Homo sapiens: one gene and its partners. The protein of the gene in region 4 purifies or fractionates together with the protein of the main gene of each other region. This does not show direct contact. Each region holds a gene or a part of one and is shown on either strand. Other genes may lie near its edges.

The links.
Region 1: the proteins of SLC6A9 (region 4) and SPCS2 purify together in Homo sapiens (affinity purification with mass spectrometry; one large-scale study listed by BioGRID and IntAct). This does not show direct contact.
Region 2: the proteins of SLC6A9 (region 4) and TMEM33 purify together in Homo sapiens (affinity purification with mass spectrometry; one large-scale study listed by BioGRID and IntAct). This does not show direct contact.
Region 3: the proteins of SLC6A9 (region 4) and SDHA purify together in Homo sapiens (affinity purification with mass spectrometry; one large-scale study listed by BioGRID and IntAct). This does not show direct contact.
Region 5: the proteins of SLC6A9 (region 4) and HERC3 purify together in Homo sapiens (affinity purification with mass spectrometry; one large-scale study listed by BioGRID and IntAct). This does not show direct contact.

What each region holds. Positions count from the first base shown.
Region 1 is NC_000011.10:74,969,445-74,973,270, reverse strand, and holds part of SPCS2 (signal peptidase complex subunit 2), read right to left. Parts: intron 3,707-3,826; coding exon 3,572-3,706; intron 1-3,571. UniProt on the Homo sapiens protein: Component of the signal peptidase complex (SPC) which catalyzes the cleavage of N-terminal signal sequences from nascent proteins as they are translocated into the lumen of the endoplasmic reticulum.
Region 2 is NC_000004.12:41,955,929-41,959,754, forward strand, and holds part of TMEM33 (transmembrane protein 33), read left to right. Parts: 3' UTR 1-3,826. UniProt on the Homo sapiens protein: Acts as a regulator of the tubular endoplasmic reticulum (ER) network by modulating intracellular calcium homeostasis. Mechanistically, stimulates PKD2 calcium-dependent activity. Suppresses the RTN3/4-induced formation of the ER tubules.
Region 3 is NC_000005.10:249,280-253,105, reverse strand, and holds part of SDHA (succinate dehydrogenase [ubiquinone] flavoprotein subunit, mitochondrial), read right to left. Parts: intron 2,115-3,826; coding exon 2,003-2,114; intron 1,769-2,002; coding exon 1,638-1,768; intron 1-1,637. UniProt on the Homo sapiens protein: Flavoprotein (FP) subunit of succinate dehydrogenase (SDH) that is involved in complex II of the mitochondrial electron transport chain and is responsible for transferring electrons from succinate to ubiquinone (coenzyme Q).
Region 4 is NC_000001.11:43,998,034-44,000,599, forward strand, and holds part of SLC6A9 (sodium- and chloride-dependent glycine transporter 1), read right to left. Parts: intron 193-2,566; coding exon of another isoform or gene 91-192; exon of another isoform or gene 1-90. UniProt on the Homo sapiens protein: Sodium- and chloride-dependent glycine transporter. Essential for regulating glycine concentrations at inhibitory glycinergic synapses.
Region 5 is NC_000004.12:88,651,161-88,654,986, reverse strand, and holds part of HERC3 (probable E3 ubiquitin-protein ligase HERC3), read right to left. Parts: intron 2,976-3,826; coding exon 2,899-2,975; intron 2,119-2,898; coding exon 1,897-2,118; intron 946-1,896; coding exon 854-945; intron 1-853. UniProt on the Homo sapiens protein: E3 ubiquitin-protein ligase which accepts ubiquitin from an E2 ubiquitin-conjugating enzyme in the form of a thioester and then directly transfers the ubiquitin to targeted substrates.

The DNA of each region.
Region 1 (3,826 bases), on a different chromosome or scaffold from region 4:
AAGAAGAGGCATAGAAGTGGCACAATGTGATGACATGCATTCAAAGGGGGGATTTTAGGGAAGAGGACGCATTGGAAGCTGCAAAGGAGAGACCCATCTCTACCTGTAGTACCGGAGTAATGAAGGCTGTGAGAGAAACATCAGCCACCACTTGCAGTCTGCAGTGGAAATATGTCCTCAGAGGTTATGGTCAGGTTTCACTTAGGGTAAGAAAGAGAAGGGATGTTCCCCTTCCTGTGTCCATGTGATCTCATTGTTCAATTCCCACCTATGAGTGAGAATATGCGATGTTTGGTTTTTTGTTCTTGCGGTAGTTTACTGAGAATGATATATCCCTTGGGGAAAATATTGCCTAAGTATGCAGGAAAAAAAAAAATATATATATATATATAAAACATTAATAAGAGAGATTAGATTGATTTATAGCTATGCTATAAATGAAATGAGATAGATTTTATATTGTCTTATAACCTTATATGGTAAATGTTCATATTACAAAGTTAAATAAAAGTTTCAGTGGATCCAATTTGTTGTTTAAAAAAAAAAAAAAGAGAAGGGAATGTTCATAGAGATGGCTAGGTTATAGGGGACTTTGTGGATGGCTGACAATGACTGGGCTGCAGGCAAAGACTAATTAGGAGGTCAAGGCTGCAGCCCAGCCCAGATGAATGTCAATCATTCACATAACAAAACATGCCACGCCAGGCCCTGGGCTGGGTCTGGTTACCAAGGGGTGAGTGAGAAAGTCCCACCTGGGCTTAGGTTTCTACTGTATAGTGAATGGTAAAGGAGCTCACACTTTGGAGGAGGGGGCGGGCCCAGGAGGAGACACAGATATTAAATAATTATAGCTCCATGTGGTAACTAACAGAGGTAAGCATAAATGCTTTTAAGAATAACTAGGATGGGCTGGGCGTGGTGGCTCACACCTGTAATCCCACCACTTTGGGAGGCCAAGGCTAGGCGATCACTTGAGGTCACGAGTTCAAGTCCAGCCTGGCCAACATGGTGAAACCCCATCTCTACAAAAAATACAAAAATTAGCCGGGTGTGGTCGTGGGTCCGTAATCCCAGCTACTCAGGAGGCTGAGGCAGGAGAATCACTTGAAGCCGGATGAGGAGGTTGCAGTGAGCCAAGATCGCGTCATTGCGCTCCAGCCTGGGTGACAAGAGTGAAACTCCATCTCAAAAAAAAAAAGAATAACTAGGACCACCTAATTTAGACTAAGGCATGTTAAGGAAGACTAAGGTATGTCAGGGAAGGCTTCTTGGAAGTAGGAGTGAGCCAGGTTACAGAAAGATAGCTAAGCCAGAGAGAAGAATATGTTTAAAGGTACGGGGTCACTGGAAACTTGGATAACTTAGCATATTGCAAATTCCATAATATTGCCAGAGTAAGAGAATGTATTTTGAGAGGGGCATAAAAGAAAGCTGGAGATGTCACTAGGGGATGAATGCTGTAATACTTCATATGCTGAAGGAGTTTAGACTGTATAATGAATTTGCTGGGGAGTGACAAAATCACTTTTTGCGAGAGAGTCACATAGCTTGTGTTGTCTGCACGTGGCAACTAGTAGTCTGTGAAACCTTTCATTGCCATTTTCACATCACATGACCTGGCAGTGGGAATAAGACATCAGAATCAGCCACTGTTAAGCTACTAAATCAGTCGGTGAGGTGGGGGAGGGAGAAGACATCAGCAGAAAGCCGGGAAGAGAGCAAGAACATTCACATTCCACTCCACCAACAATACGGCAGTTGGTAAAAATCAGCAGGAAACGTGAAAAAAATCAGAACCCTTGTACACTGCTAGTGAGATTGTAAAATAGGGCAGCCACTTTGGACAACAGTCTGGCAGTTCATCAAACAAAGAGAGTTAGCATACCATACAAGTCTTCTCCCAGGTGTATTACCCAAGAGAAATGAAAACATGTCTACCTAAAAACATGTACACAAATATGTATAGCAACATTATTCATAATAGCCAAAAAGTAGAAACAACCCAAATGTCTGTCAACAAATGGATAAACAAAATGGAATGTTACTTGACCATAGAAAGGAATGAAGTACTGATACATGCTACAACATGAACGAACCTTGTGTGCAGTATACATAGGAAGTAATTGCACTAAGTGAAAGAACCCAGTTATAAAAGACCACATATTGTATGATTCCATTCATATGAAATGTCCATAAAAGAGAACAGAGAAAGTAGACTGGTGGTTGCCCAGGGCTCAGGCAAGTGGGAGGATAGGGAAGTGATTAGCTAGAGTACAGAGGTTTTTTTTTTGAGGTGATGAAAATGCTCTAAAATTGACTGTGATAATGGTTGCAAATATCTGTAAATACTACTAGGTACTTTTGAACTGTACACTTTAAATGGGTGAACTGTATGTATGGTAGGTGAATTATATAAAAGTTCTTAAAAAATACAAAAGTCAGAATAAAAATAATGAAATTATAATGCCGCTAGGTTTTAGAATTCTGCAACTCAGCTTCAGTGGCCTGGTAGAGGATGCAGATTATGATGGCTGAGGCCAAAGGGCAGCTAGAAGCCCTGTCAGGAGATAAGCAAGAACTCAGCTGCAACAACAGAATGAAGGTCTGCTTCCCTTTCTCATAGGCGCTTCTACAAGTTGGCAATGAGACAGTCTGTATGGCACAGATGCTACACTTAACTTCATATATAAATAATTGTACCTATAATTTGTGCGGCTATTATGCACCAGTTAAGTATAATAGGTTTTTAAGATAGTGACTACGAGTATGAATTCTGGTTTCAAACTTGGGCTGGAATTCCTGCTCTACCACTTTTGGGCTATATGATACTGGAAGAGTTGATTTAAACTTTGGGCCTGTATTCTTATCTATAAAATGAGTGTTCTAAAACTTAATGAGATAATGCATTTAGCAGAATACCCAACATACAGTAAATGTTCAATAAACATTTGCTATTATTATAATTGGTATTTCATCTTCCCAGAAACTCTAGGCATCATTTTTGACCCCACTAAACCTCAGATAATTTATATGATTTACCCAAAGTTATACAGCTAGAAAGAAACTGAATTGGAACATGAACCTAGTTCTTGGTACCTACAAAACACATGTGTGTCAGCTGCACAAAGTTATACCTGACACTGGTCAGAAACAGACTCTAGATTGTGCTTTTTTTGAGTTGCCCAGTGCACTGCTCCAGATATTCTTGATTGTATTCGTGGAGAGAAGACAGGATCATAGAAGACACAGAAGCTAATGGAATTCTTCAAAGATAACTGATCTCACATCTTTGGCCTTTATACTTTTGTATGCTTAATCGTCTCTGTTAACTGGCCACAGGAAAAAGTACCTTCTCCCACAGTTTATCCTCAGAGCATTTCTGTGATAACGCAATCTCAGAACTATAGGGCTAGGACAAACCTTCTAGATCATCCATACTCCTTTCTTCATTTTATATGACTAGCCCTATGATCCACATAGAGTAGGCACATAATAAGTCTTCTGTTGATAATGACAACATGCCAGGGCAAATCCAACACCAGGATTTAAAAATCTGTGAGGATAGTCATACCTTTTAAGACTGGAGGACAGCTGCCAAATATCATCAGGATCCATTCCTGTAGGATCTTTCCTGTGGGCCACGAGAAAGATGCTCTTCTCCTTATATGAGGTATAAATGGTCAGAATCCCCATCATCACAAAATAGGTTCAAATAAAGTTAAGGGGAAAATACCCAAACATAAAAGAGAAGTAACACAAATTGACAAGCAACAGATATAAAAACTTTCATAATGATAGTCCTAAAGAAGACAGCTTTGTCTTGCTG
Region 2 (3,826 bases), on a different chromosome or scaffold from region 4:
ATCTTTTAGATTTATAGAAGAGTCAGAAATGTACAAGAGAGTTTTTTTGTTGTTGTTTTTGTTTTTTGAGACAGAGTCTGTCTCTGTCGCCAAGGCTGGAGTGCAGTGGCGCAATCCTGGCTCACTGTAGCCTCTGCCTCCTGGGTTCAAGTGCTTCTCCTGCCTCAGCCTCCCGAGTAGCTGGGACTACAGGTGCACGCCACCACGCCTGTAGTCCCAGCTGTATTGTAAAAATACAAAATTTTAGTATTTTTAGTAGAGACAGGGTTTCACCATGTTGGCCAGGATGGTCTCGATCTCCTGACCTCGTGATCTGCCTGCCTCGGCCTCCCAAAGTGCCGGGATTACAGGTGTGAGCCACCGCGCCCTGCCAAGAAGAGTTCTTTTGCATACCCTTTACTCAGGTCCTCTCATGTTAACGTTTTACATAACTGTAGAACATTTATCTAAAGTAAGATATTAGCCCAGAACAATACTACTAACTGAAGTATAAAACTTATTTGAATTTCAACAGTTTTTTTTTCATTTCTTATTTTCCTTTTGTGTGCTCTGTTTATACCATGATCCATGATTTTTTTAAAATCATGATTGTCTTTTAAAGATCTGTGTGTCTCTGTTTTGAGTTTTTCCTGTTTATTTTGAAAAGTACTGTTGGTCAAGATAATTGGTCAATAATCCATGTTGGTTTTAACAAAAAGCATTTTAACATTAAAAATATTACAGTATAAAATAACACTCTGTGCTTTAAATTGAGGTTTTATGTCATTTTAGCAGAATTATAATATTTCTGATATACTCATGTTTGACAAGTTGAAACAGATTTGTTTCTTAAAGGAAGGTTTAATATACAAAAAAAGGTAATCTTAAACTTACGAAAAAGTAAATTTTACAATTTGAGCATTACTAGATGTTTAGTTTGCATGAACTCATAGTTAGAAATTCTGCAATAGGAATATCTACAACCGGCTGATTTGGAATTTGAAATTATAGTGTTACATGTATACCTATCAAATTAAAATTAAGGAAATACAATAGCAATATATAGAATGAATGTAGTAACAGAAATTAACTCTTTACTGCATCATTGAACTTATTGTTAGTTACAGGTTTAAAAGAAGTTCATTTAACATCCAGTGTGTCTAATTCTTCTGGAAGTGGTGTAGTACCATTGTTCTTCTGGCATTTTTAAATATTAAACCTTTTTGGATAGATGGAAGCCTTATACAAAATCTACTTTATTTTAGCAAGGATTCTCTGTCCTTTTGTATAGTTGGTACCTTACTAATTTAAACTCTAATATCAATCTAAAGAGAAATTTATTATGCAATTTGTATTTAGGTTTTTTTTTTTTTTTTTGGAATGAAGTTCAGAGGTAGATCCTCCTGGAAGAAAGAAAGCAAGCGAACTTTTTAAAGAAAATTAGACTTGAATATTTAAGAATGTCCCTTACAGAGAAAAGGCCAACTATAATACTAAGCTAAAAGTTATGAAAAATTAATAGGTTCTTTTATAGAGCTAAGAATGATGAAACCATCAATACTTCCTTCTTCCTAAAAATCCAGATCAAAACTTCAGGTTAGGTTTCTAAGTTTAGGACATGAATATTATTTTTTTCTGGAAAAGAAGATGAGTATATGTGTAATAAGACAAGTAGAACTGAGAGATTTAGTTTTTTTTTTTTTTAAGTTTTAGTTCAGAATAACATTAATTTTGAGAGATTGAGGTAAAGAACCTTAACTAATGCTAAGGAGTTTATTTTGATTAACATAGGTTATTCTGACCACCACCTCTTCCTTCCTTAATCTCCTTAGAATCTGACAGTCTCAAAGCTGTCACACAAATTAGACTAATTTTGACACTTTGAAATGAAAACTTCAAGGAAGAAGTAGCCACGGACAGTTATGTTTATAATCAGTAGGTGGCACTCTTTCCTCAGGTAGCCCCCCATTTTCACATGATGTGTTTGAAGGTTAAATGCCACCAAAAGTGCTGAGTCAGCTATAAAACTAAGTCCCTGAATTCCATGGCCCTTTTAAATATGTAATCATTCAAGATTGAAAAAAAAAATTAAGCATTTTTTGTTTGTTTGCTTGTTTGTTTTTGAGACGGAGTTTCACTCTTGTTGGCCAGGCTGGAGTGCAATGGCGCCATCTCAGCTCACTGCAACCTCTGCCTCCCGGATTCAAGCAATTCTCCTTCAGCCCTCCAAGTAGCTGGGGTTACAGGTGCCCGCCACCATGCCCAGCTAGTTTTTGTATTTTTAGTAGAGATGAGGTTTCACCATGTTGGCCAGGCTGGTCTTGAACTCCTGACCTCGTGATCCCCCCACCTCGGCCTTCCAAAGTGCTGGATTACAGGCGTGAGCCACTGTGCCTGGCTTGCATTTTTAAAATACTGAATTATTCAAAAGAAGTACCCTGTCAATATGTGCTTTCTAGGAAAACAGTAAAATAGGCCACAATTTGGAGTGACACCATTCAGATCAAGGTCTATCCAGTTTTTTCTTTTCATGCTAAGTGCCTACATCACCGAAACACACTAATATAAAATTATCCTTTCTCCTTCATTTTCAGATGTGTAAAAAATGGTACTTAAAGTGTTTTCATGATCATTTTGTAGGTAGACTAGATATAGCCCGTTGAACCTCTTTTAAAATTTAGACTTTTGATAGTAATATAAAAGCATATTGAAATTTGTAGATATTATATGAGGAATGGCACCTAGATTTGAAAATTATGCTTGGCTTGTAGAGACAACTAGTTTCTCTCGCTCTTTTTTTTTTTTTTTTTTTTTTTTTTGAGACAGATTCTCACTCAGTTGCCCAGGCTGGAGTGCAGTGGTGCAGTCTTGGCTCACTGCAACCTCTGCCTCCTGGGTTAAAGCGATTCTCATGCCTCAGCCTCCCTAGTAGCTGAGACTACAGGCGTGCACCACCACGCCCAGCTAATTTTTGTATTTTTAGTAGAGACAGGATTTCACCATGTTCACCATGTTGGTCAGGCTGGTCTTGAACTCCTGGCCTCAAGTGATCTGCCCGCCTCGACCTCCCAGAGTGCTGGGATTATAGGTGTGAGCCACTAAGCCTGGCTGAGACAACTAGTTTCCCTTAACTCATTGGAATTCTCTAGGATTAGGAGAATTCCACAGAGCCTATATGATATTATAGCTCAACATTTAGTATACCAAAGGCATACCCGTGTAAATCTAGGAGTTATTTCCAGAGATTGTTTTAAGGAGCAGTCTTATATTCAGGGTAGAAAGTTATGATTGGATCTGCTGTTAAGGAGAACAAAGGAGCTTCTAAAGGTTTGGGAGGTTTACTGGTAGTAACTATTCTAGGAAATATTTATGTTTTAAGGTGATGTTCACATGGGTTCTTTAGAAGGAACATAGTCAAGTGTGATGGATTAACTCTATATAGTCTTTCTCCTCTTGTGCGTGTAGGAAATCTGACCTGCAGTGTCAGTTGATGTGACAAGAGATAAAGAAAGCACAGTATTTTAAAATCTAAAGCAGATTCCTTTCTTAGAAAACAATAGGAAAAAATTATAGATGGATGTCTTTGCTGAAATCTAACAATTAGCTCATATTCCATGAGAAAGAGTGGCCTAAGAATTATTTCATGTTACCTAGCCTTCTGAAGCTACTCACTTGATGTGCCTAGCACTTTGAAACTAACCTTTTCTTTCTTTGTTCATGACAGTTTAATTCCAAATATTTACTATTTTCTCTTGTAACTGTTAGAACAGTTCCTTTTGACATTAATTTTTGCCTACATATATATTTTTAAGTTGAGACCAAATCGGTGAAGTGTTGAGCAAGTAAC
Region 3 (3,826 bases), on a different chromosome or scaffold from region 4:
GCTATCATATGGGAAAAACTCTTACCAGGCAGAATCCAACACGTGCGCTCTGCACAAAAATCAGTTCATCTGAAGAACAAGTGACCACAGGGCAGGCTCTATAATACCTTTTCCAAACCACAGGACAGGTCTGAAATGGTGGCTTACTCCTTATTTAATAAACTGGCATTTCCTCCACAGCGCAGGTCTGAAATGGTGACTTACTCATTAATAAACTGGCATTTCATCCACAGGGCAGGTCTGAAACAGTGACTTACTTGTTAATAAACTGGCATTTTCCTCCACAGGGCAGGTCTGAAACGGTGGCTTACTCGTTAATAAACTGGCATTTCCTCCACAGGGCAGGTATGAAACGGTGACTTACTCGTTATTTAATAAACTGGCATTTCCTCCACAGGGCAGGCTTGAAACGGTGACTTACTCATTATTTAATAAACTGGCACTTCCTCCACAGGGCAGGTTTGAAACGGTGGCTTACTCGTTAATAAACTGGCATTTCCTCCACAGGACAGGCTTAAAACGGTGACTTACTCGTTACTAAACTGGCATTTCCTCCACAGGGCAGGTTTGAAACGGTGACTTACTCGTTAATAAACTGGCATTTCCTCCACAGGGCAGGTTTGAAATGGTGGCTTACTCGTTATTTAATAAACTGGCATTTCCTCCACAGGGCAGGCTTGAAACGGTGGCTTACTCGTTATTTAATAAACTGGCATTTCCTCCACAGGGCAGGCTTGAAATGGTGGCTTACTCCTTATTTAATAAACGGGCATTTCCTCCACAGGGCAGGCTTGAAACGGTGGCTTACTCGTTATTTAATAAACGGGCATTTCCTCCACAGGGCAGGCTTGAAACGGTGGCTTACTCCTTATTTAATAAACTGGCATTTCCTTCACAGGGCAGGTTTGAAACGGTGGCTTATTCGTTAATAAACTGGCATTTCCTCCACAGGACAGGTTTGAAACAGTGACTTACTCGTTAATAAACTGGCATTTCCTCCACAGGGCAGGTTTGAAACAGTGGCTTACTCGTTATTTAATAAACTGGCATTTCCACCACAGGGCAGGTCTGAAACGGTGGCTTACTCGTTATTTAATAAACTGGCATTTCCTCCACAGGGCAGGCTTGAAACGGTGGCTTACTCGTTATTTAATAAACTGGCATTTCCTCCACAGGGCAGGTTTGAAACGGTGGCTTACTCGTTATTTAATAAACTGGCATTTCCTCCACAGGGCAGGTTTGAAACGGTGGCTTACTCGTTATTTAATAAACTGGCATTTCCTCCACAGGGCAGGCTTGAAATGATGGCTTACTCGTTATTTAATAAACTGGCATTTATTTCCTGGTCTTGCCACTCTAGCTGCACTTCTAACCTTGGCCTTCTAACAGCAAAGCACATTGGCTTGGAGATGCCACTGCTGGCATCAGTGGATGCCGACCCAAAGCAAGGAAAAGGTCACAGTGATCCAGAAGATGGCGAGAACCCAGGGATCAAAGTTACCAGGGGGGAAAAAGGCATTTTTTGGATTTACTTTTGGGGCAACGAAAGAAAATGCAGAGAAAATGCAGGGGTGGGGCTGAGTCCCACCAGGTGGCAGGAAAAGGCAGGTGCAGGTGGGCGTGGTGAGAAGGCCCACCTTGTAGTCTTCCCTGGCATGCGCGCCCCGTGACTCCTTCCGTGCCTCTGCTCCGTAGATGGTCTGCAGCGCACACAGCATCAGGTTCTGCAGCTCCAGGGTCTCCACCAGGTCCGTGTTCCAGACCATTCCTGGGGACACAAAAAGTTCCATCAGGGGCAGGCGGGACCCAGTCACATGGGCCCTCCGAGCTGTCAGCCTGGGCCTGCTAGTCCATGGAGTCACTGGTTGTGGCTTTATAGCTGTGGGCCAGGACCCATCCAGACAGCAAGCACGGAACTAAGTCAGCACTGACGGGACAGACACCAGCCCACCCTGCAGAAGGAAGGGCCCAACAGTGTGCACAGAGCCCACTGTCTGCTCACCCCGGTCGAACGTCTTCAGGTGCTTTAGGTCTCCATAGAGCTTGCTGATTTTCCCACAACCTTCTTGCAACACGCTTCCCACACGGAACACGGCAGCATGATTTTGCATTGACTGTGGCACAAAATATTATTTGTAAACTTTTAATCCATAGAAGCAGCCATACCAAGAACTGCTTAACTTTTAGACCTGTTGTTTTGCATTTCACTTAAAAGTTACATAAATTAAACAGAAAAATTAGGAAATTCAGACTATGAGTTTATTACTCCAAACTTAAAAATGAAGTTTTGACTAAAGCTTCTGAATAAATAAATGTTTCTATTACATACACATCTTAGACCCACACACATCCTTTCCAGCAGGATACAGCCAGGGTCCAGGACTCCAAGCAGACTGCCTGTGAGGCACCATGTTCCATACAGCTCCACGGCCAACCAGGCAGCGCTGCCTCTCCACACCCCTGGCGGGACTCCTGACGCGGGGTCTGGTGGTGAACGTGACACAAGCCAGCAGCCCTGTGGTGATACACACTAGGAGGAGCTGAGCAGAGCCCTGGTGATGGTGGTGTTGGAGCTGCACGTCTTCAAGGAGAGGGAGGGGCGTGGGTGGCTGGGGCCCTTGGCCCATCTGGCTACTGTCTTCTGCCTATCTTGTAGAAGCTCCTTGTACACTGAGTTCCTTCATAGTTTTACTGTGATGAGAGACGTGCTATGCAGTGGACCTGAAGTTTACTGTAGGTATGCTGGGAACTAGGCGTCAGCTTTTGCTTCCTGTGGGACAGGCACCACCTCAGTGATCCCTCCTCCTCCTTGCTTCTCCCTCTAACTGTGCTTTGCTCCACTGACCCTAATTTTCTCTTCCTCTACCAATGCACCTTCATGGTTTAATTTGGACATTTCATCTGATTTTCCTTAGACTCATACATAATCGTAACACTGTAATGCACATCAACCTAATGGTTTTTCAGGAAGAACAAATGAAAAACATTGCATCTCAGAATCTAGTATTACATTCTTTCATGTCCATTAGCAGCCACATGTTTTCATATCCTTTTTTTCGTATTTCTGGTTACATTATTTCAGGGCATTTTCAATTTTTTTTGAAATGTGAATGAGATATTTACTGATGTCTGAGCAGACTACTGCTGGCACATTGTAAAGCTACTGATTTTTAGATACAAATCTCTTATCCAGACACCTTACTACATTCTTGTTTTGTTTCTGTTAGTTTTTCAGTTTATTCCCTGGGAATTGTTTGGAAATTCTATCTGTAAATAATGACAATTGTATCTATTCCTTTTCAATATTTACTGCTGAGACCAGCTCGGTTGTGGAGACCCTAACCCAGCGGTGCTGGAGGAATTAAAGACACACACACAGAAATACAGCATGTGAAGTGGGAAATCAGGGGTCTTACAGCCTTCAGAGCTGAGAGCCTTGAACAGAGATTTACCCACATATTTATTGACAGCAAGCCAGTGATAAGATTTACTAAAAGTATTCCTTACGGGAAACAAAAGGATGGGCTCTGGCTAGTTATCTGCAGCAGGAAAATGTCCTTAAGGCACAGATCGCTCATGCTATTGTTTGTGGTTTAAGAATGCCTTAAACGGTTTTCCACCCTGGGTGGGCCAGGTGTCCCTTGCCCTCATTCCAGTAAACCGACAACCTTCCAGCGTGGGCATCATGGCCATCAAGAGCATGTCAGAGTGCTGCAGAGATTTTGTTTATGGCCAGTTTTGGGGACAGTTTATGGCCACATTGGGGGGCCTGTTCCCAACGTGTCCCCTTTATTTGTTTTGCAAAGTGATAAAAGCAAAGGCAGCT
Region 4 (2,566 bases):
GGCAGGTGTGGGAGTGGGCGTGAGGCCGACCCAGAGCCCAGACCCCAGGCCATCCCTCTACCAGCACCCTTTCCTCTCTGGTTTCCCAAACTAGAAAAGGGCATTTGGGGCAGAACAGGGACAGCTGTCAACATCTGGGCCGTGGAAGAAGCAGGCAGGGCCGGGGGCCGGAGCGCGGTGAGTGGGAAGGCTCTGCGGAAGGGAGAAGTCTGTCTTTGCCACAGTCCTGAACTGGCCAAGCACAGTAGAGCTGCTGCCGCCTTTGGAATCAGTCAGTTCTGCTCGCTATGGCTCCCCATGGCTAACTGAAGTAAGGCCACATCCTGGGCCTTTAGGCTGTCACCTGGCAGTGTGACCTCAAATTGTCTTGCCGGCCACACTACTCCGCCCTCAGTGTTTCAGTCACACCCAGTGTTTCCCACCCACTCTTCATTTATTCTGGGGAATCATCCTCTGCATCTTCCTCTGTCAAACCCTATGTCAGTGCCCTCTCCTTCAAAAAGCCATCCCAGATTTCCTCCATTTCCTTCTGCAGGGCCTCCCCACGGCGTTTTCCACCTGCTTCCCTTAGAGTGACTTGGTTTAACGTTCCCATAGACCTGAGAGCTCCTGGAATTGCATCAACTCTGGGGGTGCAGTGCCCAGTACAGTGCCTGCCACAGTCTCTTGTGTTGATTTGAACTGATTTGTGCAGAGAGGCAGAGGAGGATGGAAAGAGGGTAGGGCAAAGCCCTGCCTGTCTATGGCCGTGGAGACAGGGACATTCAGCCTGGGGAAGCTCCATGGGCTAGAAATGGTGAGTGTCAGGCTGCGGTGCTCTAGGGAACCTCCTTGGAAAGAGATGAGTGAGATTGGAAATAAAACTTGTGGCTGCAGTAACAAAAGGAGTGAAAGGAGGCAGAAACACAGGCAGTGGCTGGCGGGCCACCCAGAGGGCCTGGCGGGGGAAGGGGGGGGGCAGTCCCAGCACCCTCCTCCTGAGCCTCCAGCCACATCCTGGAGCACAGGGCCATATTCTAGAATGCAAGACCCACATCCAAATTGGGGGACCCTCCGGAGACACTGCACACGATGGGAGCTTATAACAGGTTTCCTGAATGGAACAGATCCTGACCTACGTGTGGACAAATCCCTCATTTGAGCTGACAGAAGGGTGGAGTTTGTCAAAAAGAGCTTTTCAGAAATATGAAAAAGGAAAGCCCCCAGAGAAAACACAACAGCCCAGAAAGCCAGGCTGGAGTTACCCCAAGGAGAGGACTCTAGGCTCCCCTAAAGGTAACTCCAGCCTGGCTTCCTGGGCACAGGAAGAGCCCCGCCCGCTGTGCCTCAATCTTGTGGAGACACCAGATCCCAGCCAAGGTTGCCCCTACAGATCCTTCTTGTGCTTGTCTCCTTCCTCCCCACTGCCCTTGGCAGGTGCCCCCTGGTCTCTCCCCAGGACATCAATCTAGTCTGAATGCTGGGAGACCCTCTGAGCCGCAGAGGCTGAGCTCCCCTTGGGCCATAGCCCCAGAAGGCATGGCACTCTGGGGTGGTGGTGCCTGCCCTCCCCTGCCTCCCACCACTGAGACTTCCGTTCCTCCTGTTTCAAAGCTGGGCCAGTGGCCAGAGCGGGGAGCCTGTGCCAGGCTCGGGAACATCCCACAACCTACCGGGTAGAGGCCTCAGCCCTCCACGGGCCTTTATTCAGAAACATGAGCCACAGGGGAAGTCTGGTGCTGAGCCCCCTGTGCCACCGAGGCATTAAACATGACAAGAGTGTGGCTCTGAACACTGGCCGGGCCACTGGGCCAGCCCTCTGACTATCACTCAGAGGTGGCCTTGCCTGTCCTCTGTGGAGTGACCATTACACTGTCAATACCTGCCTTCCCCGAATCCCACCCCAAACAGGAAGGAGCCAAGTCATACGGTTTTGGCCCCTGGACCATTCCTCCCTCCTGCAGAGGTGTTTCTAGTGTGGCGCTGGCCCAGGCTTGGAATTGGACAACCTGATTTGAATTGTGGCTCTGCCTCTTATTAGCTGTGTGACCATGGGCCAATTACTTAACATCCCCATGCCTCAGTTTCCTCATCTGTAAAGTGGGGACAACAATGACACCTTGGAGAGCTCTATCACGGGTTACATGGGAATGGTGTGTGGAAAGTGCCTGCTTCCTTGCCATGGTGGATTCCTTCCACCAATTCAGCTCCCTGATGGGAATTTCTCAGCTGTTGAATATTCATAAAACCTGGAACTCCCCTTCCCAAGCCACCCACCTCACTGCCTGGAAGGCTTGCAAAGTTGCCCCCATGCAGAGCTGACCTCTGACTCCACAGTCTGGTCTACCAGCCTTGGGCTGCTGCTGGAACACTGGTTCCCACCACATAGCCAAGGCCCTGGAACACCCTCCCTGGAGGGATGGGAGATAAGGCCAGCAGGCAGAGGCTGACACGCTATCGATATTGACTCCTGAGTCCCCGGGGGTGCCAGGCAGGAATGCCTGAGCAACGTCTGCAGTCAAATAAAGGCTGTGGCACTCCCCTCCTAACCTGAGGCCAGGGCCCAGGCAGCTCTGAGTCGCCACAC
Region 5 (3,826 bases), on a different chromosome or scaffold from region 4:
CTTTATGGAACAAAGATAGCAATGCTCAAAGGAATGTGTGCCTTCTGTAAATTTTTAAAATCGTTTGAAAGTACAATGATGTGTTAGGAAGCAAAATTTTAAAAAAGGAGAAACTAGGAGCTAGGCTAAATGAGATGATTTTACATGATCATTCACATGTAAGAAATTAGGTGCTCTACAAATTCCTTGGTAAGTAAGCTGTTTTTTTAACAGCTGTATTTAAATAAATGTTAAGGCATTTTATCAAAGTGAACGTAGAATAATATTTGTTCAATATAAAAATACATTTTCATTCTCTCTAGAATGTATTTAGAAGCAAAAGAAACATGATTATTTTAAAACATTAATTAAATTGCTGTTTCTTTTTTACATATTTAAATGACTTGTTTTAAAGGAACATAGGACATCATTTTATATATATTATATATACATAAAATAACAAATAAAAATAACAAAGTGCTGTCTTTGTTCCATAAAGAACCAAGGAATTTATATATATATAAATATATACATTATATTTATATATATAATCTACATTTTTATATAATCTACATTATATGTGTGTATATATATATAATCTACATTATGTGTGTGTGTGTATATATATATATATATATATATATATATATATATATATGAAAAATCTACAAGATTACCAAAGAGGATAACAGAGACATACAAAAAAGTAGTCTTTTTCTATTCCTTTGGAAAACAACAAACCCACATAAAAGAGAGCATTCAAGTTCAAGCCACAATACTGTAATCACACACCATCACTACACTAACATAATCAAGCAATTCTAATCACCCATCATATCCCCAGCACCAAAGTAAAATACTCTGAGCTCCTTACCTTTGTGAGAACTGCTGTGTGTTCTTCTCCACAACTAATATAGACAACTTTTTGCGTGCGTAAGAGTTTTACATGGCATGGAGATTCTCGATCTAGAATAAATTAAATATCAGAATATCACTACCATTTGCCTTTGAGATGAAATATACACAACTATCTTGGCATGAATTTTGGATTCCTGGATTCCTGACGCATGTTCAGTTTCCTGCCTGCATCTGTACTTGGATATCCAACAGACTTCTCAGTTTTAATTTACCTAAAACCTACCTCATGGTTTCCCTACACTCTCCAACCCTGCCCACTCTCCAGCTCACTTTACTACACACGGTTTTCCCCATTTCAGAAACAGTCATTTTGCCCTTCCAGCTGTTCCTTTATTTCAAACCACACATCCAACAGTGAACAAAACCAACTGGCCTCATCTTCAAAATATGTTTAAAATCTGACTTTACTCCCACAACCTCCAAGCTGGTCTTCCAGCTTCCCCCTTGACCCACTACAGCCAAAGCCAAAGTGGATCACGCTTCTCCTCCAAACCCTCAGGGTCTTCCCCTCTCACTGAGAAAACCAGTTATATCCTCACCCTGCCCCTCAGGGCCCTGCATAACTGGGTCTACACGACTTCTCTGACCTGCAGCTGTGCTACTCTTCCCCTTCTCTCCAACTACATCTCTTCCCACATGAGCACCTTTGCACACCCAGTTCTCTCTGACAGGAACATTTTTCACCCAGACATTTACATGTCCCATCTCCCACCTGATTTCCTACAGGTTCTGCTCAAACATTTTCTTATCAGAGGGGCCCTTCCCCACCACCTTATGTAAAGCAGGAAGCTGCACTCTCAAATCCTGTGTATTTACTGGTTTTGTTGCACCTCTACTCACTAGAATACAGTCTCCACTAAGACGAGGATGTTCTCTATTGTGTTCACTGCTTCTCCCTTAGTATCTCACATGGGGCTAGCACATAGTAGATCCTCAAGAAGCATGTGTTAAATGAATGTGCTTTTAAACTAAATACATACATATGAAGGGTTTACCTACCTTTTTCATCACTGAGCCCTAGCTGCCCGGCATTATTCATCCCCCAGCCAAAAACAGCTCCTGAGAGAGACAGGGCAAAGCTGTGAGCCCCTCCGGCAGCCACCTGAGCCAGTGGGATCCCCTCCAGGGACCTCACCCTCTGTGGGCTGGCTTGGGAGGGGAACTCCTTCCCTAAGCCAAGCTGCCCATGGCTGTTCTTTCCCCAGGTGAAGAACTGGCCATCTGAAATAACAGGATAACTGGTATTACCATAAAATGATACAAGCTCCACACACAAAAATAATCTAGTTATTAGGGTCATTTGCCAGTTGCCCCCCAACACCAAACCCACCCAAGAGCAAAGGAACAGAGATACTTCATGCTATCAGACTGCCAAAACCAAAACTCCCAAGTGATATAACAGAGAGGTAAGCTGAGTCTTACTGCCCTTCAAAGGCTATTAAAATTTATACACAGAAAATATTAAATGTATAAGTAAATTCAATTTCGGACAGGCCAATTACCAGGCTTAAGCAAGATCACACTAGTTCTGACCACACTAAGACTATGAGACCCAAGACTTCGGGAGGTCCAGCAATGACCACTTGGTCTGCTCTGCAGATAATCAAGCAGGACACAGAAGTGCAGATTTATTTAGGTTTCTCCAACTCCTTCTTTTTCATTCATTTGGGAGCTTGATAGTGGAATGTAGCTTGAGAGTTGGCTGTCGCTAAGAAAAATCAATCTCCTCCATGCTCAGAACACCTAGGTATGGTCCTGCCCCCTGCTTATCTTCCCCTGTGAAAGTTGGAGCAGCAATGATGACCACCTACTTCATCACCCACACCCTGAGAAAAGGATGAGCTATGCAAAGCCCATATGAGAATTGTCACTGTCCAACAGCAATGCATAGACCCTAACCAGTTAATTCAAAGTTTTCAGTTAGATAATATCACACAAAAAGACAAAGAGAAATGTTTTCAAAATTAACATAGCATTAGCATATGTTTAATGTTACTTTACCAGCCGCAAGAGCCAAGCAATGCCAGTTGCCACAGGAAACTTGTAATATTGTTTGCTGGTTCAGCTTTTGTATTAACCTAAAACAGAAAAGGCTTTCTTTTTCAGATAGATATTCACACACAAACACAATTATCAGAAATATTCCCAATTAAATAAAATGTCAGTAATAAATAACACCATCTTGCCTAAAAGTCTTTTTAAGGCCAGGCACAGTGGTTCACGCCTGTAATCTCAGCACTTTGGGAGGCCAAGGTGGGCTTATCACCTGAGGTCAGGAGTTCGAGACCAGCCTGGCCAATATGATGAAACCCCATCTCTACTAAAAATACAAAAAAAATCAGCCGGGCGTTGTGGCACATGCCTGTAATCCCAGCTACTCGGGAGGCTGAGGCAGAGAATTGCTTCAACAATTCCCCATCACCATTACTCTTGTCACAATCAGTTGTAGAAAAGAAGCAGGTCAGAAGAACAAAGACAGATAATAGAGAAATTGTACCCTTGAGGTGGGGAAGAGGGAGTCCATACAGTGCAAGCACATACTGTATTTTACCTACTTGTCTCCTTCTATCCTCCCCATAACCCTGTAAGGTACATAGTAAGTAATTTTTAAGTTAGGAAACTGAGGCTTAGAAAAGTTAACCTGCCCAAGGTCATTCACCTTACAAGTAAAAGAGCCAGTATTGGAATCCAAGGCTTGTTTGACATCAAAGCTATGTTACTTTCCACAATACAAAGGTATAAATTAGTGAATTTATTTCAATTAACTTATAATAGAAAACTATATACAAATCAAAGTCTTGGAAGTCATCCATAATTTGAACATGAATAATGAATATTAAGCTATTACTGTAGAACAGATTACTTCATTTTTAAAAATGAAATGCCGTTAAAAACCTTAATTGTGTTTTGGTCATCAACAAATGAAATA